Linked DNA regions of Homo sapiens. The protein of the gene in region 3 purifies or fractionates together with the protein of the main gene of each other region. This does not show direct contact. Each region holds a gene or a part of one and is shown on either strand. Other genes may lie near its edges. The genes, in order: ANGEL1, PASK, FBXO10 and FAT3.

Region 1 (5,939 bases), on a different chromosome or scaffold from region 3:
CCTGTGCTGTAAATAAATGGTTGAGTGTGTGAGTGTAGGAGTTGTTTGCTCTCACCAAAATACTGTGCTCAGAGTTTGGGGGCTCTAATTTTAGAGTTTTTCCCACTTTCTTTCTTGCCTGTTGGCTGTCATTGGTGGCTGCAGTATCAGAGAGATGTCAGCTGTCTCTTACTGTCGATTGTTGGCACCTTGTAATTTATAGCCTCTGATGTGTTGTGGAATGGGAAAGCAGATAATGAAGTTTGTGAAGATTTTATTACAATAAGTAGCTTTGAGAAAAGGCTTAAGGGCCCTTGCTAAGATGTAAATTGTATAGATTTTTGAGACTGTCTACTTTAGGACTTTTTCTTTTGGAATACATTAATAGATTAGGGAATTTATACAGCTAGAAAAGCTCAGAGATTATCTAGTTCAAACTTGTCTCTATTTTTTTAAATTTAAAATTTATTTTTTTCTTTTCTTTTCTTTTTTTTTTTGAGATGAGGTCTCACTTTGTCTCCCAGGCGGGAGTGCAGAAGGGCAGTCATAGCTCACTGCAGCGTCAACCTGGGCTCAAGCAATCCTCTCATTTCAGCCTCCCAAGTAGCTAGGACCATGGGCATGTGCCACCGTACTTGGCTAATTTTTAATTTTTTGTAGAGATGAAGTTTCGTTATGTTGCCCAGGCTGGTCTCTAACTCCTGGCCTCAAGTGATCCTGCTGCCTCTGTCTCTGCCTCCCAAAGTGCTGGGAGCCACCACGCCTGGCCTCTTGTCCCCATTTTACAGTCAAGAGTAACTTCATCTGACTAGGGGCATTGTTCAAGGTCAGTTTTATTAATTTTGGTGCTAGATCATAACCCACAGTTCTGATTAACAGTCAGTTGCTGGTTGCAATGTAATGTGATTCTTAGAACCAAAGAGTTTGTTAATAGTAGTCTTAACTAAGTCATGTAAAAGGAGTGTGGGTATATGTGCCCATCTGTGTTCTAGATTATGTGAGACAGCTGTTCTTTCATGCACTGAATATTTATCAGATCCCTGCCATATAAATTAGTCAACACTTGTAAAGAACAGTGCCTGGCACATAGTGAATACTTTGCCCTGATGATGATGATGATGTTCAGGCATTAAGGTAGGCAGGCTCAGTGATGGTACAATGATGAGCAAGGTGGATATGGGTCTTGCTTTTATTGGGCTTATGTTTTAGCTGGGAGAATAGTGTGGGTTGGATGACAGTCTTATAACCTGGTATTTTGGCTTTCCTCCTAGATGCTTTCTTCACATGTCGAAAAAATGTCCTTCTGGCGAACAGCTCATCCCCCCAGGTAGAGGGCGACTTTGCCATGGCCCCTCGGGGCCCTGAGCAGGAGGAATGTGAGGGCCTGCTGCAGCAGTGGCGAGAAGAAGGGTTGAGCCAGGTGCTCTCAACTGCAAGTGAGGGGCCCCTTATAGATAAAGGACTAGCCCAGAGCAGCCTGGCACTTCTGATGGATAATCCTGGAGAAGAGAATGCTGCTTCAGAGGACAGGTGGTCCAGCAGGCAGCTGAGTGACCTTCGGGCTGCAGAGAACCTGGATGAGCCTTTCCCTGAGATGCTAGGAGAGGAGCCACTGCTGGAGGTGGAGGGGGTGGAGGGCTCCATGTGGGCAGCTATCCCCATGCAGTCGGAGCCCCAGTATGCAGACTGTGCTGCCCTCCCAGTGGGTGCCCTGGCCACAGAGCAGTGGGAAGAGGACCCAGCGGTGTTGGCCTGGAGCATAGCACCTGAGCCTGTGCCCCAGGAAGAGGCTTCCATCTGGCCCTTTGAGGGCCTGGGGCAGTTGCAGCCTCCCGCAGTGGAAATACCATATCATGGTGAGTCTGACAACTGGTTGAGTGAGCCAAGGGAACAGGGTGTCTCAGGTGTGGGCAGAGCCATTGCTAAAGAGAAGATTCTATGGTAGGGAGCTCTGCCACTGCATTCTATTTTTCTAAGAATCTTGGCATGTCAGATCTAGAGGGTCCTTACAGATCATCTCATCCAGCCCCATGGTTTTAAAGGTGAAATAATCAGAGTGCAGAGAGGTAGTAGAACATGACTAAAGTCATAAAGCCAGGTAGGGGAAGAACTGAAAGCATACTCTAGTTCTGATTCTCCACAATGTCATTTCTCTGGTGGTAACCCTAGGGCTTTCTGGAGGTAGGGATAGAGAGGTCTCAGGGCCTCTAGTCTCTGTCTCAGTCACAATTACCTCAGTTTTATTTGTGTTGTATATTGAGAGTCCGTTAAAATTTGAAGAATGGCGTCAATAGATTTGAAATCCACTATGCTGCCACATGCCATAGGGGAGATGGGGACACACCATAGTTTCTAGTCCCACAGACTCTTCCAGGTTTAGGGGTCAGAAAACACCCAGGGCTGCAATTACTCTAAAAATGTCTTTAACCTCAGGTGACTGTTAAGCACACTCATCTGAGTGATTCTCCGGAGATTCATGGATTTATCAAAAATGAGAGTGTGTCAGCTTCCATATATGGAGCATCTATTAGATGCTAGGTGCTGGGGATGTAGTGGTGAGCAGGCCAAGATTGTCTCTGGCCTTGTGGAGCTAACCATGTCATCTGAAGAATGTCCATAGAAATCAATTCCCCACAGAGAGGGATGGGTGACAGGGAAGATGGAAAAAGGAACTTCAGGCATAATATTACTGAGTCAGGAGTGGAGATGGCAGCACCTCTGCATTACTCATACTTGCCATTGAGTGCTTCTCCCAATCCTTTGCAGAAATTTTGTGGCGAGAATGGGAGGATTTCTCCACCCAGCCAGATGCTCAGGGCCTGAAGGCAGGAGATGGCCCTCAGTTCCAGTTCACTCTGATGTCTTATAACATCCTGGCTCAGGACCTGATGCAGCAGAGCTCAGAGCTCTATCTACATTGCCATCCAGACATCCTCAATTGGAACTATCGCTTCGTGAACCTCATGCAGGAATTCCAGCACTGGGACCCTGATGTGAGTGAAGAGGGGGAATTGCCATCTTGCATTGTTGCTGGACCTGGGCTGTTGCCCAGTGCTCTTAGAAGATGAGTTCAACCCATAGTTGTTCAAATGATTGGAGTCCTATCTAGGGCTGGAGCTTGCCTGCCTGGTGTCAGTGAGTTGTTGGCAGATGCTGAGAAGAATCTCCCTAGATGTGCACTTCCCAGCACCTTTATGCAGGAAGGGAGGCTTGAGGGATTCAAGGAGCAGGAAAATCCAGTGCACATCTCTAATCTCTTCAGCTTAAGTCTGGGCCTGTTCTTGCTGTTGGTGACTCTGGGAAGTTTCAGTGTGACCCAGCAGCTTCCCACCTGGCCTCAGGACCTGCTCCTAGAGGGTGGGGGTCACATTCCAGCACTCTGGAGTGATTGGGTTTCTTGTCAATTTCCCAGATCCTGTGTCTCCAGGAAGTCCAGGAAGATCATTACTGGGAGCAGCTGGAACCCTCTCTGCGAATGATGGGTAATGCAGCTCCCTGGGATGCTTGCCAGCTTTTCTTTCCACAGACTTGTCTACTCTCTCCTGAAGACCCCATCCTTTCCTTTTGTCTTAGTAAACCCTCAGTTTCACCTGTGAGCTAGCTCCTTCCATGTGTGCCTGAGAAAGTAGAATTCTGCAGTTTTATAGCAATTCTGACATACATTGCTATTTGATCCTTGAAGTAACCAATGTGGTGAGACTGTTATTCCCATTTTACAGATGAGGAAACTGAAGTTCTGAAAACTCATGTGACTTCCTCAGAATCACAAAGCTACAAAGCTAGTAGATGTGGAGCTAGGAATCCAGCTTGTCTGACTCTAGATTCTGTGCTCTTTTCTATCATGTTACATTGCTTCATACCCTTCCCTCCTTGCCCTTCCAGCCCCTCAGTCAGCTGGTTACGATGTAAGGGGGAACCTGCTGAACCAAGGAAGTGGCAAAGGCTCCTTTACTGAGTAGCAGGAACAATGCCTCAGGGGCATACACTGGGACTGCTGGTGCTGGTTGGAAGGGATTCAGGCTTTAAGGACTCTGACCCATCTCTTTGGTGGGATTTTCCTTGCAGGCTTTACCTGTTTCTACAAGAGGAGGACTGGGTGTAAAACCGATGGCTGTGCTGTCTGCTACAAGCCTACCAGATTCCGCCTGCTCTGTGCTAGCCCTGTGGAGTACTTCCGGCCTGGCTTGGAGCTACTTAATCGGGATAATGTGGGCTTAGTGTTGCTACTGCAACCACTCGTCCCAGAAGGCCTGGGACAAGTCTCGGTGGCCCCGCTGTGTGTGGCAAATACCCATATCCTTTACAACCCACGCCGGGGCGATGTCAAGCTGGCCCAGATGGCCATTCTCCTGGCGGAAGTGGACAAGGTGGCCAGACTGTCAGATGGCAGCCACTGCCCCATCATCTTGTGCGGGGACCTAAATTCTGTCCCTGATTCACCTCTCTACAACTTCATCAGGGATGGAGAGCTCCAGTACCATGGGATGCCAGCCTGGAAGGTGAAATGGGAGAGGCCACGGTGTGGGTGGGAACATGGTCTAAGAGAGATTCAGGCGTTAGCATCAGTGCTTCTTCTGTGGCAGGGACCTCAGTACACCTGCTCTGGCCTGCTCCTCCTTTTTCTTGTTATGTTGAATAGCTTGTACCCAAGCCTGGAAGTTAAGAATTCTTGAGTACTTCGGCATATTGGAATTTTTTTCAGTTTTTATCATTAATATTTTTAATTCACAAGTAATACGTAAGTACATACTTGAAGGAACTTAAACATTATACAGTAAGACACAGGCCTGTTTTATTACCCACATTCCCTATTCTATTCTCTTAGAGTAACATAATGACCGTTCTAAGTTTGGTGGTAGTCTTTTAGCTTGTTTTCTTTGCATTTACAGTGATATCTATGTTCCTATGATATTGTAATCAGTGTTTACATTTGTTAAGCACTTAAGTGTGTGCCATGTGCTATTTTAAGCACTTTATACTCATTAACTAATTAGTTTTCACAGTTTCCATCATGGCTTCCATTTTATAAATGAGGAAACTAAAGCTCAGAAAAGTGAAGTAATTTGCCCTAGGTTATGCGGGTAGTTAGTGGTGGAGCCAGGATTTGTAACCAGGTGGTCTGGCTGCAGAGCTCTTACCCTCAAATACTGTGCTGTCATTGCTTATAACAGCCAATATGTAATCTACCATGTGTGTTTTATAAACATGATACACTACTGTATGTTTCATTTGTAGCTTGTTTTTTTTCACTCAGCAATTTGCATATGGATCTCATTCCTTCTAACTGTTGAGTGTTGATGACAAACACCTCGTAGTTTTATCAGCTTGTGCTGATTTCTTTATGTCACTTAATCTCCTTGTTCCTCTATTTTGCCCCTACTGTTTCAATTTATTGACTAACTTTTGGCAAGGCACAATGGTGGAAGGACACAAAACGATTGTATTACTGTTGCGCACATGGGATTTTATGTAAATGAGCCAGATGTGTGCAGAGAAAGGCATGATCTTGCCCTAAAGGAGCTGTAATCAAGGAACTCAGGGAACGAGGAAAAGAATTTACTGACTGCCTGCCACATGACAGGCACTGTTAGGCATAGTGAATGAGAGCACTTGCTTTGAAGCCAGACAGTCCTGAGTTCAGATCCGTGCTCTGCCACCTTGAGCAAATTACTTAACTTTTTTGAACCCCATTTGCCTCATCTATACGATGGGGGATATAATGGGACCTGCCTCAGAGGTGTTTTTTTGGGTGGATTAAATAAAATAATGCGTGTAAAGTGTTTTCCAGTATCTGGCTCAAAGTCAGTAACCGGTAGTGATTATTAAGATTCTTAATTGTACATGGTATTATTATCCCATTTTATTTATTTATTTATTTATTTATTTATTTATTTATTTATTTTTTGAGACAGAGTCTCGCTCTGTTGCCCAGGCTGGAGTGCAATGGCACGATCTCGGCT
Region 2 (5,939 bases), on a different chromosome or scaffold from region 3:
GGGTTCTGGATACCCAGAAGGTGGTCCAGAAGAGGGTATATGGGGTGTGGTTGGGCTTGCCTTGGCCCCAGGGTCTCCTCATTTCGTGGGGGAAACTCCAGCCATGGTTCTGGTATTGGCCACAGCCTCCTCTTGCTGTTTATCTAAAGCCTGGATGACCAGGTGGGGGCTTCCTGCCAGTAGAGGAAATCTTCTTGCTTTAAGGGCTCTTTTTGTTGAGTTTGGCCATGAGGACAGGGTATTGGTAAATGTGTACTTGTGTTTCAAGTGCTTGCCAATATGCAGGATGGAACTCTTAAGTATCTCCACTCTGCAGGGTGGTCACATGAATGTATACATGTGACAAGACTGCATGGAACACGTGCTCACATGCGCGCACACACACACGCTCATGTACACATGTGCACACGCACACACACGCACGGACACACACGCACACCCACACACACACACACCTGCAGGTAAATGCCTTGAAATCTGGACGAGGCTGATGGATGGTATCAAGTCAGTTTCCTGGCTGTGACACTCTCCTGTAAGATGTCACCATGAGAGGGAACTCGGAAGAGTATGTGAGATTTTCCTGTATTTCCACCCTGTATCAGCATTTGAATCATGTATAAGAGAAAAGCTAAAAATACAAATCTCTGGTGCCAGGCCTGTCTCTAGGAGACATGGCCTCTTGGCCATGGCCCCCGCGACCTCACTTGTTGGCAGCACCCAGGTGATTCTGTGCACAGCTGGTCGGATGGTCAGGACTCACTGTTTAGGGGAAAGCTGAGACCATGGGAGCTGTGCAGCCCCCACGTGCTGATGGGTTCATCATGACCTGGGAGTATTTTCAGTTGGTGTGTACCTGCAGTCCCTGCCTTCCCTCATGGCTCCTTCCCACCCTGTTCTTTGTTTTCCTCTCTCTCTCCTTCCCTCTTTCCCATATCTTCCTATGTATTTTTCTTGGAAAGAGCTTCTTTTTTTTTTTCTTTTTTTTTGACATGGAGTCTCTCTCTATCGCCCAGGCTGGAGTGCAGTGGTGTGATCTCGGCTCACTGCAAGCTCTGCCTCCCGGGTTCACACCATTCTTCTGCCTCAGCCTCCCGAGTAGCTGGGACTACAGGCACCCGCCACCATGCCCGGCTAATTTTTTGTATTTTTAGTGGAGACGGAGTTTCACAGTGTTAGTCAGGATGGTCTCGATCTCCTCGATCTCCTGACCTCGTGATCCGCCCTCCTCAGCCTCCCAAAGTGCTGGGATGACAGGCGTGCGCCACCGTGCCTGGCCCGGAAAGAGCTTCTTTTAGCACCACTTTGGGTGGACCATTCTCCCATTGCGGGTTCTGACCCAGGATGGCGGTTGGTGGTGTATGTCTTTTGGGGCCGAGCTGAACTCAGCATTATAAATTAGTTGGTTAAACTGTCTTTGTGTTTTTGCATTGCAGATGTTAATCAGCTTCATGTTGTTTTCTAGTTGTTAGAGTTGGAAGCTTGGCAGTTGGCCTCCCTTCTTCCCATGGAGGACGGGGGCTTAACAGCCTTTGAAGAGGACCAGAGATGCCTTTCCCAGAGCCTCCCCTTGCCAGTGTCAGCAGAGGGCCCAGCTGCACAGACCACTGCTGAGCCCAGCAGGTCGTTTTCCTCAGCCCACAGACACCTGAGCAGAAGGAATGGGCTTTCCAGACTCTGCCAGAGCAGGACAGCGCTCTCTGGTAATGACCTTCGACCACTGCAGGCCTTAGCGCGTGGAAATACAAATGTGGAGTTGCTCTGTGTTCTCATGGAAACCCTCTCACCAGGGATTGAAGTCACTCTATTCCTGCAGAGAAAAGTTCGTGGTTTAAGTGCTCGGCTCATGCTGGCAGATGACTCCGGCAGGACCCTTCCTGCTGCTTTTACTCTGCTGTGATTCCCAGGCAGCTGGCGCTTCTTTTCAGGCAGCAGGTGGAACTCACCTTCACATTTCAGGGTCAAGTTACAACAAAATGTTATTTCTTACTTTAGAGTATGTGAGAACGCTGTTCTAGGTTAGGCTATTTTACTTAGGGAATTGCAGCTTTGCTCGTGCAGTTTACTGAGCTAAACGCGGTTTAGCTGGTGGACCAAGAATCATGGGGCAGAAGTCTGTTGGTGCCTCCTATGTCCAGATTCCGTTGGTGCCTCCTTTGTCCAGGCACCCCAAAGGACTGGGCCATGGTGAGGAAGGAAGCGTCACTTGCCTTTCAGGGGCTGTCTGATGGAGGCACTTGGGGAGACAGCAGGCTGTGTGCTTGAAGTTGGGGTAGACCTGGAAAATGGGGAAGTGGGGCATAGAGCTGCGGGAAATGGTGGCTGGGAGTCTGGTCTCCAGGTCAAGGAGCACTTCGACACTGGAGTAGGAGGGTGTTGGAGCTGAGCTTGTGCACTGGAGTGTCTGAGGGTGTAGAGCGGAGGGCCCTGTGGAGAGTGCCCAGGATACTGCAGGGAGGGGTGGGCTGGGAGGCACACAGCGCCCTTGGGAGTGGGCTTCACCCAGGCGCTGATCAGGAATGTTCTCAGTGAGTGTTGACAGGTGTGTTCCTTTTTTGGAGCATCATTCTGGTGGCTGCATGAGGAGCAGGGGTGGGAGCCGGAGGTACAGGGCCTTGAGACATGAGAAGGAGCTGCGCTTGGTGACTGCTGTCTGGGGAAGAGCAGGGGCGAGAGTGGCTGGATGGCCACGTGGTTTCCAGCCTCAGAGAATGGTCGGGGTCAGGCCACTCACTGAGAAAGTCAGGGGTCCTGGCTGGAGGACATGGAGGGGAGGGGATGGGAGAGAAATGGAAGGGTCAGGTCTTGAGTGCTTGGTTTTGAGCACTGGAAGAATGTATCTGGTGTCTCCAGAGATGGGGAAGCAGGCGAGTGGGCCGTGGGAGGTCCAGGCTGGAGGTGCGAGTGTGAGAGTCTTCAGTGCATTTCTAATTAGATGTATTTAAAGCTACCGAGGAATGGGTGAGATGGAGCCAGGGTCACTGAGAGGTGGGAGGTGGGGGAGCCCAGGTGCCCGAGGAGGGTGGTGTGGGAGGAGGGTGAGGCCTGAGGAATGACGGGGCTGAGGGTTTTGGGAGCCATTGGAGGCGTTGCTGAGAGAACGCTGCACAAGGAGCTCTTGAATCGTAGGAACGCTTCCAAGGAGGAGGTGACGGGGCAGCCACCGGAGTGGCCATGGGGTCTTGGAATGACTGACAGAGGACAGAAGGTGGGAAGGAAGGAACCTTTGAGTGTAATTAAGCTTTTTTGTTTTTTGGGACAAGGTCTGACTGTTGCTCAGGCTGGAGTGCAGTGGCGCAGTCATAGCTCGCTGCAGTCTCAAACTCCTGGGCTCAGGCAATCCTCCTGCCTTAGCCTCCTGAGTAGATGGGGCTGCAAGGGCACGCCACTATGCCCAACTGATTTTTACAAATTTTATTTTTAGTAGGGACAGGGTCTCGCTGTGTTGTCCAGGCTGGTCTTGAACTCCTGAACTCAAGCAACCTTCCTGCCTCAGCCTTCCAAAGAACTGGGATTATAGGCACGCCTGGCTTTGAGTGTAATTTAGACACAGAAGTGTTGATCTTATGCTGTTTGTGCTTCCGAGTGGACCTGGTGGTTGCCTAAGTGGATTCTGGGGACCATGTTCAGACACGCAGTGAGAGTGTGTGTTAGCTGTGCAGACTGACTTAATCCTTAGATCTTTTTGCAGGAGTTGAGGGCAAGGGCTGTGTGCTTTGCCTGTTTCAGAAGGTGGACTCTGGCAGCTGTGTGAAGTCTAAAGCTTCGCTTCGCTTCTCTTTTCAGAAGACAGATGGAGCTCCTATTGTCTATCATCACTGGCTGCCCAGAATATTTGTACAAGTAAACTGCACTGCCCTGCTGCCCCTGAGCACACGGACCCGTCCGAACCGCGGGGCAGTGTGTCCTGCTGCTCCCTGCTGCGGGGACTGTCCTCAGGGTGGTCCTCACCTCTGCTTCCGGCCCCTGTGTGCAACCCTAACAAGGCCATCTTCACGGTGGATGCCAAGACCACAGAGGTATTTGCTTCTCTTTTAGATCCAGCTGTGTAGATGTGGATTTGTGGTTTGTGCCTTAAACCTGGGATTTGTGTGTTTTAATGCAATTAGAAAAACATTTGGGCACTTCGGGAGGTGGGAAGTTTGCTTGAGCCCAGGAGTTCAAGACCAGCCTGGGCAACATAGCAAGATCCCATCTCTACAAAGAAATTAGCCAGGTGCGGTGGCACACACCTGTAGTCCCAGCTACCAGGGAGGCTGAGGCAGGAGGATCACTTGAACCCAGGAGTTCAAGGTTGCAGTGAGCTCTGATTGCGCCGCTGCAGTGAGCTCTGATTGCGCCACTGCACTCCAGCCTGGGCAACAGAGTGAGACCCTGTCTGTCAGGAAAAGGCTGGCTTCTGCATGGTCGTCCTGGGCTGTTCTGGGCAGCTGGTGGAGCTGCTGGGGATGTCTGCATCCTTGCTCCTCTTTGTGATTCCTCAGATCCTGGTTGCTAACGACAAAGCTTGCGGGCTCCTGGGGTACAGCAGCCAGGACCTGATTGGCCAGAAGCTCACGCAGTTCTTTCTGAGGTCAGATTCTGATGTGGTGGAGGCCCTCAGCGAGGAGCACATGGAGGCCGACGGCCACGCTGCGGTGGTGTTTGGCACGGTGGTGAGTGGATGCGGGTGCAGCGTTCAGTCTGGCCTCAAGACCAGCAGTGTGTGGCAGGAACAGCTCAGTGTTCCCTACCAGGAGCTCTGCTGGGGGTTGGGTGGCACCAGGACATCTCAGCTTCTTCAGCTGAAAATGTCATCCCAGGCGCCGTTTCCCCGCTTCAGCTGCAGTGGGGGTGGGGGCCCTTTAAGAACGAATCATCGCAGGAATGGACACTGTGGCTGTGGCTGGACTCCTGGGAGGTGTCGTGGGTGGCCCTTGCTTTGTCTGAGGGCTGTAGCTTCACTAATGTTTTGCAGTCCTGCCGGGCAGCACATCAGATGCTCAAGAGTAATATGGTTTTATTGTCTATTGATTTTTACATTCTGTTTGGTGTTTGTGGGAGCGGGCGGGGGTGTTGGCCTGGAAGCATTTCCCTAGACAGTGTTGATTCTCTCACCTGTGCCATGTGTCCAACCTGGATGTTGACAGGTGAGCTGAGTTGGATGTGGAGGACTGAGCCCAAGGCATGGAAAAAGCCCAAGGCATGGCTGATTGTAGGGTTTCCCCTCGTCAGCCGGTCGGGGACTGGGGGAGTAGCGTTGGAGGGCAGTGGAGGTTGGGGTATGATCTGAGGCTCTAGTAGTCATCCAGATCCTCCAGGTTGCCTGTTTCCCACCTAGTGTGTGGCTTTCACACAGAAGACCCCATTGCTTGAACTGAACTGATGTCACAGGCTTAGGACCAATTGTATCAGAAAATCACTGGTTCAAGAAACTGACTACTAAGAAGAAAAAAACTAAGATATTCACCATGTGTTGGTGTCTGTTTCTTTAAGAAATAACAGATACTGCTTTTTTCACCCTGCAATATTACCATGAACTGAGAATGAAATCTACTCTCTTGATAAAACTTGCACTTGGAGATTTTAATGTTCAGTATGGGAAATCTTGTTTGTGCTTTGGTAAATTTCTGAAATGAAAATCAGGTAAGCAGAAGTTGAAAACGTTGCAGTGCCTGGAGTTTGGGCCTCCTGGAGGCAGGTGCCCCACCCATACTGGTCTTTTGGGTTCATGGCATGCAGGTGTGAACCTGTCTGTTTCCACAGGTGGACATCATCAGCCGTAGTGGGGAGAAGATTCCAGTGTCTGTGTGGATGAAGAGGATGCGGCAGGAGCGCCGCCTATGCTGCGTGGTGGTCCTGGAGCCCGTGGAGAGGGTCTCGACCTGGGTCGCTTTCCAGAGCGATGTGAGTGTGCAACTTTGCCTCATGTCTCATGGACGCTGGAGCCGGCGTCGTTCTCC
Region 3 (5,939 bases):
GTTTCCATGAAAGAAGGCAGTCTCCTGGAAGCATGACATTGATGCCCTGGGCTCACCTCTTTGTTTTGTTTTCCTTCCACTTTAGCGGGAACCACATCTTCAAGGGCCGTGCTGCCGGCATAGCAGTGAATGAGAACGGCAAAGGCCTCATCACAGGTACGGATGGGAACTGCCTGGCACCTGGCAGCCAGGCCAAGGTCCCCTGGCGTCACCCCCCAGCTTCAGGACCTCACACTGCTCCTTTACCCCCACAGACTATGGCCTCTTTCTCTGACTGGTGGGCTGGAGCTCAGGGACGCCAGCTGCATGGTGGCTGTGCTTCTTACAGGAGGGCCTAACACAGAGTGGGTGTCTGCTCCTTCCAGGCCCAGAGCCGACAGGCCCTCACAAGGTGGCTCACAGAACAGTTTCAGAAGCACTGATGCCCAACCACCTGTCCAAATCCCTCCTCTTGGTCTTTGTGCGGACCTCTGCCTGCTCTGGAAACCTCCGCCCGGCTAACCCCTGCTTATCCTTTGGGTCTTAGCTTAACTGTCACTTCCTCAGGGAAGCCTTCCCTGACTTCCCCATTGTACACAGATACACTCACTATACCCAGGATGCCTCCTCTCTAGGGCCTTTGACTTAATTTCTTAGTGGTTTGTGGTGTCCGTCTCCTCTGTTATAAAGTGGTAAATTCCACAAGGTGAGGGTCAAGTCCATCTGGTACATCAATGTAGCCTCAGCACAGAGCAGAGCCAGGCCTGGGATATGAAAGGGATTCCGCAAATACTGGTCCAGGGAATCCCCCTGACTGAACTTATCAGACATGGATTGAGCACGTGTGGTATACAGGCCGTGTTCCAGGAGCTACAAGTGCAGCAGTGAACGAGGCTGTCAGCCACTGACATTTTAGGAGAGGAAGCGAATAAATAAATAAAAGCCTACGTATATGAGCAAAAAACATCCCATCTGAGGGTGACAAGTGCTCTATGGATAATTAAGGCAAAAGAGGGACTGGGTAGGCATTTGGGATTGTGTGGTCAGGGCAGCCCTCTGAGAAGGTGACAAGGAAACCAGACCCTGAGTGGGAGTGGCTGGAGGAGCTGGGAAAGAACCTTCCGTGTAGGGCCGCCTGTGAGAACAGACTTGGCATGGCCGAGTGGACATCGCTTGTGGGACTGGAGTGTGGTGCACAAGGGGCCTGCAGTGGGGACATGGAGACAGGAAGAGGCCAGTCACACAGAGACTCCTGAGCCATTGCAGGTGAGGCTAGCGCCTTCTCACAGGCTTGTGGGTAAATGGCCACATTCTGCCTCTGAGGACTCTAAAGCCAGTTTATTTATTTATTTTTTTTGAGACGGAATTTCACTCACTCTTGTTGCCCAGGCTGGAGTGCAATGGCGCGATCTCGGCTCACTGCAACCTCCGCCTCCCAGGTTCAAGTGATTCTTCTGCCTCAGCCTCCCGAGTAGCTGGGATTACAGGCATGTGCCACCACGCCCAATTTTGTATTTTTAGTAGAGACGGGGTTTCTCCATGTTGGTCAGGCTGGTCTCGAACTCCCGACCTCAGGTGATCCGCCCGTCTCAGCCTCCCAAAGTGCTGGGGTTACAGGCGTGAGCCACCGCACCCGGCCTATTCTTTGTTTTGTTTCCTTTTTGTTTGGTTGGTTGGTTTTTTGGACACCAGTGTCACTCACCAAAGCTAGTTTATTCTTTTTTTTGAGGCAGGGTCTCAGTCTGTCATCCAGGCCAGAGTGCAGTGGCTCGATTATAGCCCACTGCAGCCCTGACCTCCAGGGTTCAAGTGATCCTCCCACCCAGCCTCCCAAGAAGCTGGGACTACAGGCACGCACCACCACACCTGGCTAATTTTTTTTGTATTTTTTTTTAGAGACAGGATTTCCCCATTTTGCCCAGGATGGTCTGGAACTCCTGGGCTCAAGTGATCTACCCGCCTTGGCCTCCTAAAGTACTGGGATTACAGGCATGAGCCACCATGCCTGGCCAAAACTAGTTCATTTTTAATCATCAGTCCTCAAGGCCATTGGGTGTATAGTAGGTGCCGGGGAGATAGGAGTGCACAAGATAGACACAAGCCTTGCCCTTGGGGAAAGGAGTCAGCAGATAAGTCCCTGAAACATCAGACAGCAGACAAGATTTACAGTGCTAATTGCTGGCAGGGTAAGGCCAGGGCCTTCTGGTCTGGAGTAGCCTTGATCAAAACTGTCCAAGTCCTATTTGCCAGCACTGGAGCTGGCCCTTGGGTACTGACCTTCTTTTCTGCTTCTCTCCATAGAAAATGTCATCCGTGAGAATCAGTGGGGAGGTGTGGACATCCGCCGTGGAGGGATCCCCGTTCTCAGGAGTAACCTCATCTGCTTTGGCTATTCAGATGGTGTGGTTGTGGGAGACGAAGGCAAAGGCCTCATAGAAGGAAATACCATCTACGGTGAGGAGCTTGTTCCCAACCCAGCCGGGGAGGCAGGAAGCCCAGGTTCCATCTCCAGCTTGTGGGTCCTGAGAAGGTCACTGCCTTTCCCTGTGCCTCAAAGACCTCATCTGAACAGGCACTCTCAGGCCACAGTCACCCAGGCCCTCCCAGAACAAAGAGCCTCTTACAAATCACATTGTAGTCCAGATTGACCCCGTGGGGTTAGCAAAGCAGAAGGCTTTATCCCCTTTTAAAATAGCAAAAGACAGGAGTTGTGTCATGTCTTAAGGACAGGACCATTTCAGCCCTGGCTCATGTGCATCTAACTCCTCTTATCCTTTCTTTTGATCCCAGAGAACGGAAAATATAATGGGAAAACAAGATAATCACAGGAAGAAAACTCTTCTCACTCACGCAGTGACTTTGGGCAGAGCCTTCATCTGTCTGGACTCTATCTCTAATAATACAGTGATAATAATAAAGATGACTCAGGCCCACCTCTCTACTCAGCCCTTTCTATGCATGATCACATTTAATCCTCATGACTGCCTTCTGAAGGAGGCACGGTTATTAACCCCATTTAAAAGATGAGAAAACTGAGGGACAGAGAGAGGTCTGGTAACCTGCTCAGGGTCTCACAGCTGGGAAGTGGTAGGGCTGGGATTCCAACTGAGGCTGCCTCCTATGCAGGGAGGGATTGGTGCCCCCTTGGCACTGTCACTGTGGGCTCATGTGCTTCTGATGTGGACATGTGGCCTGACAGTCCTCAGAGCACTTTCACACTGTGTGGAACGAGCCGAGCTTGTGAGGTTCACCTGATCCTGATGACCTCTCTTGTGTGAAGGTGAAGTCTGCAGCTAGAGCCATCAGGTGGCTTGTCCGAGGTCATTAGCAAGGCAGGGACTCTCTCCCAGGCCAGTGGCTTTTGTTTCCCCTCTCAGGGAGACTCAGGTGCCGCTTCACCTGAGTTCAGTGTCGGTGACCAGCTCCTCTCACTGTCCCAGCTAACAAGGGCTGTGGTGTGTGGATGATGTCGTCCAGCCTCCCCCATGTCACCAGCAACCACGTCAGCTACAATGGCCTGTATGGAGTGGCAGTATTTAGCCAGAAGGATGGCTCCAGCGAGTTACCTCGAGGCCACAGGGCTCAAGAGAACTTCAGCGAGGATGGGGACGCCATCCTCTGGGAGACAGAGCTGGAGAAGGAGGACGACCCACTGCGCCGGCCCATCACCATAGCTCTTGTTGAGTCTAACAGTATTAATCACAATGGAGGTGAGTATACCCCCTCAGCCCCTGCTCAAGAACCTTCCATGGCTCCCCACTGTCTTTTTTTTTCTCCAATTTAAAACTTTTAATTTAATTTAAATTTAAAAGTAAACTTTAATGTCAAAGATGCAAACCTGGGTAGGGCAGAAAAATCACACACAAGGTTGCCACTTCACACTTGGAGGGTTGCACAGCGGCCAGGCAGAGGCGCTCCTCACTTCCCAGACAGTGTGGGGGCCAGGGAGAGGCGCTCCTCACTTCCCAGACAGCGTGGGGGCCAGGGAGAGGTGCTCCTCACTTCCCAGACGGTGGGGCGGCCGAGCAGAGGTGCTTCTTATTTTTGAGACGGTGCGGCCGCCAGGCAGGGCCTTCTGCAGACTGATCCCAACTTGCCCTCAGGCCTCATCAGCCACTTCTTCCAGCCTGATCCCCAATCCTCCTGTATTTATTCATTAAACTTGAATCCATTCTTTCCTGCCTCCTAACCTGCTGACCTCACTCATGCCTTTCTCCCATCCACACGTCCCAAACTAACTTGAACTTCAAAACCTGTTGTGAATATCCCCCTTCATTCCTTCCTCCTTTGAACTGGGCCCTCCCCATCCCCACTGGCACTTGTTATGAGGCCTCGCGACTGTATTTATTTCTGTGGCTGTTTCATCAACACTGATAGGCCATGAACTTGAGACAAAGAACTGAAGCCCACCCAGCTCAGTGCCCCTGTCCCTGCAGTACCAAATCCCACCTCTGGCACACATGCTTTTAATCAACTCTAGGATACATTTCTCAAAATTCAACATCTCCCACGAGATGCATATCATGGTTTAATTGGCAGTGAGTTTTCCTTCTTAGAGAGGCAGAAAATAAAAGTGTTTTAAATCCATGTTATCCTAAACCTGATGAAAAATGGAGGCCAGGTGCCAGGGATCAAGCCTGTAATCCCAGGACTTTGGGAGGCCAAGACTGGGGGATTGCTTGAGGCCAGGTGTTCAAGACCCGCCTGGGCAACATAACAAGACTTGGTTTCTACAAAAAAAAAAAAAAAAAAAAAAGAAGAAGAAGGAGTAGAGAAAGAAAAATTAGTTGGATCTGGTGGCATGTGCCTGTGGTCCCAGCTACTCAGGAGGCGGGGGGATCGCTTGAGCCCAGGAGTTCAAGGCTGCAGTGAGGTGTGATTGCACCACGGTATTCTAGGTGCTCAGAGCTCAGGAGTGACAGGAGCAAGACCCTGTCTTAAAAGGAAAAAAAAAAAAAAAAAAAAGATGGTAGAAGATGTTTGATATTTCTTGAATTAAAAAAAAATAATTACTGTGTAGTTCACCTAACTCCAGGGCTCCCAAAGCCTCCTGATTATCAAAATCACTGTGGGGTGGGGGTGGGAGGGTAGGATGGATGGGTGGGTCGGGAAATGGAGGAAGGCTTATTCAGAACAGATTCCTGGGCCAGGCGCAGTGGCTCACACCTGTAACCCTAACACTTTGAGAGGCCAAGGCAGGAGGATCGCTTGAGTTTAGGAGTTCAAGACCAGACTAGGCAACATAGAGAGACCTCAATCTCTACTGAGAAAAAAAAAATTTTTTTCAGATTAGCTGGGCATGGTGGTACATGCCTGTAGTTCCAACTACTAGGGAGGCTGAAGTAGGAGGATGCTTGAGCTCAGGACTCAGAGTTCGAGGTTGCAGTGAGCTATGATGGTGCCACTGCACTACTGCCTGGGCAATAGAGCAAGACCCTGTCTCTAAAACAAAATAAAATTAAAAGAGATTCCTGGGCCTGGTAAGCACTTGCTTCTGGTAGTGGTAGAGGACAGGGAGATGGATAACCAGCAGCCCCAACCCACTTATTCAGAAAATGAGTTCTGTCTCCTCCCAGGTCAGAGGTTCCTCCATGTGGCCATGCTGTCTGTCCGGTACGACAGGCAAAGCCACCTACGTTCACAAATACTTATTTTTGTTGTTCTCAACCAAGCCAGGAGAAGCAACAGGCTGGTGCCACCAAGAGATTTGAGCTTGCAGGCTCATGGCTCCAGACACTGCTGCAGGGCCCCAGTCATTGTCCTGCACACAACCTCCCCCAGCACTGCCCCAACCCTTGTTGCTGTTGGTGGGCAGAGGGACCTACCGCAGAGCCCTCCTCTCCTCGCCCCCGGGTCTGGCTGCCCTGCTTTCTTTTCCTGACAAGCCATGGAGCTCTAATCCTGCTGACTTGGGGTTTTTCTCCTCATGTACCTAGTGTCTCTAAGTACACACAACCGCA
Region 4 (5,939 bases), on a different chromosome or scaffold from region 3:
CTAAAAAAAAAAAGTTCTTTCATTGAATGATAACTTAGAACTATTTCTTGTATTAGGCACCCACATTTTACATGGGTCTGTGCTAAGCTCTACTTAAAAAAAGAAAAAGAAAAGACATGAGTTCATAATAGCAAAGTTTCCGGAGAGAATTTACCTATTTTTTTTCTAGGTTTCCATGGAATTTCCTTTCAATCTAAAGCCTGACCAGTGTTTTTTTAGAAATGCTATTTTACATCTTTTATTTTTCACAGGACATTTTTATTACTTAATTATATAATCTTTGTTCTTTGGGTTCCACAAATAATATAAGGAAACTTTTCCAAAAAATGAATATTTAAATCACATCCCAGAAAATGTCACCTAACCCAACAACTCTTTTTATTCTTTCTATGGTTTTTTCCAATGTTGTGTTTTTTTCTTTTCCCCGTATTCATTCATGCATATACATTGTTTCATGTCACTGTAATTATTTAGATATAGGGTTTTATTTCTACTTTTCTTACCATGTTCTAAACATTAGCTGTGTGTCTCTACCTGCTTTTTATATTTGTCATTAAGCCTGCTACTTATACTCCTTTTAGATAGCCAGATAATGTTTCAACCAGTTTGGAGTTTCTTAAGGAGTAATTTAACTTACCATCCAACCGAAAAGACTGCTCTGCTTATCTTTTGACCTCTACAGACTACAGCATGGTGCCCAGTCGTTTCTTTAACTGACTAAAACAAGACAGAACAGTTATTTCCTTAAAACATCTTTCATAAAGAAAACCCAAACTTCCAGAAAACCATGGGAACAATTGATATCGCAAAAAAAATGACCTTTGATTGTATGTAAGAAACTATTGAGGATTACAATGTTCACAATAAATCTCAAATGACCAGCAGGGCTCTTCACAGACAGACAGACAAACCCACACTGGTCCGCACTGGTCCTAGAGGAGCAAGTTTCTTCCCAGTTGAGGGTGGGAGACAGGCAGATCCCAGATGCTTCAGCACTTTGAAGCAAATGACAAATGGCTGTGTAAAGTATTATGTTTTATTTAACTTTTCTCACACACATCAGATAAGCAAGATTTCACTCTGTTTATTGGTGGGCTATAAATTTCCTGTCTCCTGCCTGTCCTCTAAAGTAACTACGGAAGCTTTTTATTTTGGCCTGAAGGACTGAGGCAGAATTTGAGTGCAGAGCTTCAGGTCTTATATCTAGTTTGAGTTTTGTGTTTGGTGTCAATGGTGAGTCTGAGGCAGGATTGTACAAGAGAGACTGGGACTGAGTTGAGTTCGGGTGAGGGCATATGGATCCCAAGATGCATATGAATAGAGAGTTTAAAATATTTTTTTTAGATTTACCTCTCCTCTCAATCATTCAACAAATATTAAGCAACTTCTTTGTAGCAGATGCTGTGTTGTGTACTAGATAAGGAATGATAAGAAAAGCACAGCTTTTATTCAATTGCCAAAAATCTACAAGAGGCCATAGATTCCAAAAAACAAACAGAGGCCAATTTTTCAGGATTCAAGTGTAGCAGGAAAGAATAAGCAGGAAGTGGATTCCAAGAGAATGGGTCAGTGTGTCAAAGAGGGAAAGAGGAGAAGGGCCCACTTTGGACCTGATGTATCAGCACACCATTCTGGAAGCGTGTCACAAGCAGATCAGCGGCCATGGGATAGCAGGATTATGAATTTCTACTTGAGGCCAGGCACAGTGGCTCGTGCCTGTAATCCCAGCATTTTTGGAGGCCAAGGCAGGTGGATCACTTGAGGTCAGAAGTCTGAGACCAGCCTGACCAACGTGGCAAAACCCCGTCTCTACAAACATGAAAATTAGCCAGGTGTAGTGGTGCCTGCCTGCAGTCCCAGCTACTCTGGAGGCTGAGGCAGGAGAATCACCTGAACCCAGGAGACAGAGGTTGCAGTGAGCCAAGATTGCACCACTGCACTCCAGCCTGGATGACAGAGCGAGACTCCATCTCAAAAAAAAACAAAAAATTATATTTGAGGTCAAAAGCTGGCTCCCTGCCATCCCCACCATAATCTATCTTTCTGGGCATGAAGAAATCTGCCGGGTGTGGAGTGAGGGAGGACTTACCTAGAAACTCTGCAGTCGGGCACCATAATCAGTGAACACCGAGATCCCTGGCTCCAGTAGCATTCATCAGTCAGGGTTGCATGTTGGTGCCATCACTGGAAGGTGACCATTGCTTAGGTGAAGTGATTTCCCCTTATAAAGTTCTGTGGATCACCTGTTGGATTCACACTCAATTCTATGACACTATTCATTGCAAGCTTGAACGTTTACTCATAAGATCATTGAACTTTTTATTATTGTCATCACAAAATGGCCATGTTTAGGTGGCAAAGTAATAAATCATGCCGACATCAAAGACAACATTGTTTAATATTCACATTTGGGGGGGCTGGAATCAAAATGACCTCTTTATTAGATATACTTTGTCTTTTAAAATAAGCAAGTATCTTCTTGAAATAGATGTTACATGAACATGACCATTTTGTGTTCAGACATGGAAAACTTTATATAATTAGCATGTAGGAAGAGGTATGTAGACACATCTCATAACTGCCCTGAAAATCCTGGTCCCTATTTTAATGATTTTAACATTTAAATTATATACCTATCATACTACAATACTCAGAAAGAAAAGTCCAGATAGAGTTGAATAACCAAGATCTTTAACTTTTGATTGGAAAGGATCTCAACACAGAAGTATATGTGTTCTTTGAGAAGTATGAGAAAGCCTGATAAGAGAAGCAAAAAGCAACTTGGTGAGGGATGCAACTTCACACTACCCACTGCCTTTCAGCTCTGTCACCACCTACCTTCTTTACATACTCCACATTGTGTCTTCCCCATTTTTTATTCCTCTGTTATTTCTCTCATTCTCAACAATCCCAGATTTCGAACCACAACATGTTTCTGAAGCAGAGCTGTAAACTACTACAGTGTCATGGCCAGAGCCCTTCCCCTGCCAGCTCTATCAAAGTGGGGTGCCCAGGTTTCAGTTTCACAAGGATTATGTCTCAGGTTCTTGGTTGCAGTGCTGGTTCAGATTCCCAACAGTTTCTTGGTACACTAGAAACACCTCAAATGCTTGGTGAATAGAATGGTTACAGATTGAGCAACTGCCCTATAACTTTTTATGTTTACTTTTATGTCTAGATGTGTGCATGTGTGTGTTCAGAAGCATGAGAGAGGGGTAGAGCATGAGTGGAGAATAGAAGAGAAGTCAGGAAAATTCATCACACTTACAAGGCAAATAATGACTTGCCAAGAATTCTCCACACCTGACTGAACAAACCCCTTCACCAAAGTAGTGTTTTGGATAAAGTCATTTTTGATAGGGTGAAATAATACCAATTCCATGTAGCGAAGTTTGCTTTTGGGATAATCAGAAAACAACTGACTACTTTATAATGCTCTGAAACTATTCCCACAACCCTCTTTCTTTAAACCTAGAACAGAAAATATGACACTGCTACCTAAACCAGTGGCATTCATATGTGGGCTTCCCAATCTATCTGTCTTCTCACAAGGCTGGAAATAAGGAAGTCCTATACATTCTTAGCAGAAAGATCTCTCCTTCGGGCTCTCTTATTTCCCAACTTGAATGCACATAAGACTGTGTCATTGTCATTGTGTTTTTAACCTGGATCTAGAAGTTACTGATCTGAAATTTACTATAATACTGGGAAACTCATTTTGGTTCCTTTTCAGTACCCCTGAAAGAGAAGCCTCTCATTTTATTTCAGAATGACACAGATGAGTACTATAATTGCTTTCTACTTGCCACATTGCAGTAAGGTACCTATAGATAAAGAGTTAATCAAAAAGATTTCAGTGACCCACATGTAACTCATTTCACCATTGATTTCTGTATTTTAGGGAACACTGGGAACATGTTTAAGATCGAACCGGTCCTAGGCATCATCACCATTTGCAAAGAACCAGACATGACGACGATGGGTCAGTTTGTCCTATCCATCAAAGTCACAGATCAGGGATCCCCGCCAATGTCTGCTACTGCAATTGTGCGCATTTCCGTCACCATGTCTGACAATTCTCACCCCAAGTTCATTCACAAAGACTACCAAGCAGAAGTAAATGAAAATGTTGACATTGGAACATCAGTCATTCTAATCTCTGCCATCAGTCAATCTACCCTCATTTATGAAGTCAAAGATGGAGACATTAATGGGATCTTTACCATAAATCCATATTCTGGAGTCATCACCACTCAGAAGGCCCTGGATTATGAGCGCACATCCTCTTATCAACTCATCATTCAGGCCACCAATATGGCAGGAATGGCTTCCAATGCTACAGTCAATATTCAGATTGTTGATGAAAATGATAATGCCCCAGTTTTTCTCTTTTCTCAATACTCAGGCAGCCTAAGTGAGGCTGCCCCAATTAATAGCATTGTCAGGAGCTTGGATAACAGCCCACTGGTGATTCGAGCCACAGATGCTGACAGCAACCGGAATGCTCTGCTTGTGTATCAGATTGTGGAGTCAACAGCAAAAAAGTTTTTCACGGTGGACTCCAGTACAGGTGCAATCAGAACAATTGCCAACCTGGACCATGAAACCATTGCCCATTTCCATTTTCATGTGCATGTGAGAGACAGTGGTAGCCCCCAACTGACTGCAGAGAGTCCCGTTGAAGTCAACATTGAGGTGACAGATGTGAATGATAACCCACCTGTTTTTACTCAGGCTGTGTTTGAGACTATCTTACTTCTACCTACCTATGTTGGAGTGGAGGTTCTGAAAGTTAGTGCCACAGATCCTGACTCTGAGGTACCCCCTGAACTGACATACAGCCTAATGGAAGGCAGTTTGGATCATTTTTTAATTGACTCAAACAGTGGAGTACTTACCATAAAAAACAACAACCTCTCCAAGGATCACTACATGCTGATAGTTAAGGTGTCTGATGGAAAGTTCTACAGTACCTCCATGGTCACCATCATGGTTAAAGAAGCCATGGACAGCGGCCTCCACTTTACACAAAGCTTCTATTCCACCTCAATCTCAGAGAACAACACTAACATAACCAAAGTTGCTATTGTCAATGCAGTTGGAAATCGCCTTAATGAGCCCTTAAAATACAGCATCTTAAACCCAGGAAATAAGTTCAAGATAAAATCTACCTCAGGGGTCATTCAGACGACTGGAGTCCCCTTTGACCGTGAAGAACAAGAGTTATATGAGCTGGTGGTAGAAGCCAGCCGTGAGCTGGACCATCTGCGTGTGGCCAGAGTGGTGGTCAGGGTTAACATTGAAGACATAAATGACAATTCTCCAGTCTTTGTGGGCCTCCCATACTATGCTGCTGTTCAAGTGGATGCGGAACCCGGGACTCTGATTTATCAGGTGACAGCCATTGACAAAGATAAAGGTCCAAATGGAGAAGTGACCTATGTCCTGCAGGATGACTATGGCCACTTTGAAATTAACCCTAATTCAGGGAATGTTATTTTAAAGGAAGCATTCAACTCTGACTTGTCCAACATTGAGTATGGAGTCACCATCCTAGCCAAGGATGGCGGAAAACCTTCTTTGTCTACATCTGTGGAGCTTCCCATCACTATTGTCAACAAAGCAATGCCTGTGTTTGATAAGCCCTTTTATACAGCATCTGTCAATGAAGACATCAGAATGAACACACCCATCCTAAGCATCAATGCCACCAGTCCAGAAGGCCAAGGCATCATATATATCATTATCGATGGGGACCCTTTTAAACAGTTTAACATTGACTTTGACACTGGGGTCCTGAAAGTTGTTAGCCCTTTGGATTATGAAGTTACATCTGCTTACAAGCTGACAATAAGAGCCAGCGACGCCCTTACTGGTGCTAGGGCTGAAGTCACTGTTGACTTGCTAGTTAATGATGTAAATGACAACCCCCCTATTTT

Evidence for each region.
Region 1: the proteins of FBXO10 (region 3) and ANGEL1 purify together in Homo sapiens (affinity purification with mass spectrometry; one large-scale study listed by BioGRID and IntAct). This does not show direct contact.
Region 2: the proteins of FBXO10 (region 3) and PASK purify together in Homo sapiens (affinity purification with mass spectrometry; one large-scale study listed by BioGRID and IntAct). This does not show direct contact.
Region 4: the proteins of FBXO10 (region 3) and FAT3 purify together in Homo sapiens (affinity purification with mass spectrometry; one large-scale study listed by BioGRID and IntAct). This does not show direct contact.

Annotation. Positions count from the first base shown.
Region 1 is NC_000014.9:76,804,955-76,810,893, reverse strand, and holds part of ANGEL1 (protein angel homolog 1), read left to right. Parts: intron 1-1,250; coding exon 1,251-1,835; intron 1,836-2,745; coding exon 2,746-2,972; intron 2,973-3,391; coding exon 3,392-3,461; intron 3,462-4,044; coding exon 4,045-4,478; intron 4,479-5,891; coding exon of another isoform or gene 5,892-5,939.
Region 2 is NC_000002.12:241,138,598-241,144,536, reverse strand, and holds part of PASK (PAS domain-containing serine/threonine-protein kinase), read left to right. Parts: intron 1-1,462; coding exon of another isoform or gene 1,463-1,504; coding exon 1,505-1,700; intron 1,701-3,783; coding exon 3,784-4,016; intron 4,017-4,481; coding exon 4,482-4,652; intron 4,653-5,742; coding exon 5,743-5,883; intron 5,884-5,939. UniProt on the Homo sapiens protein: Serine/threonine-protein kinase involved in energy homeostasis and protein translation. Phosphorylates EEF1A1, GYS1, PDX1 and RPS6.
Region 3 is NC_000009.12:37,519,319-37,525,257, reverse strand, and holds part of FBXO10 (F-box only protein 10), read left to right. Parts: intron 1-85; coding exon 86-156; intron 157-2,280; coding exon 2,281-2,433; intron 2,434-2,769; coding exon of another isoform or gene 2,770-2,801; exon of another isoform or gene 2,802-2,912; intron 2,913-3,419; coding exon 3,420-3,689; intron 3,690-5,939. UniProt on the Homo sapiens protein: Substrate-recognition component of the SCF (SKP1-CUL1-F-box protein)-type E3 ubiquitin ligase complex. Mediates the ubiquitination and degradation of BCL2, an antiapoptotic protein, thereby playing a role in apoptosis by controlling the stability of BCL2.
Region 4 is NC_000011.10:92,793,935-92,799,873, forward strand, and holds part of FAT3 (protocadherin Fat 3 isoform 1 precursor), read left to right. Parts: intron 1-3,901; coding exon 3,902-5,939.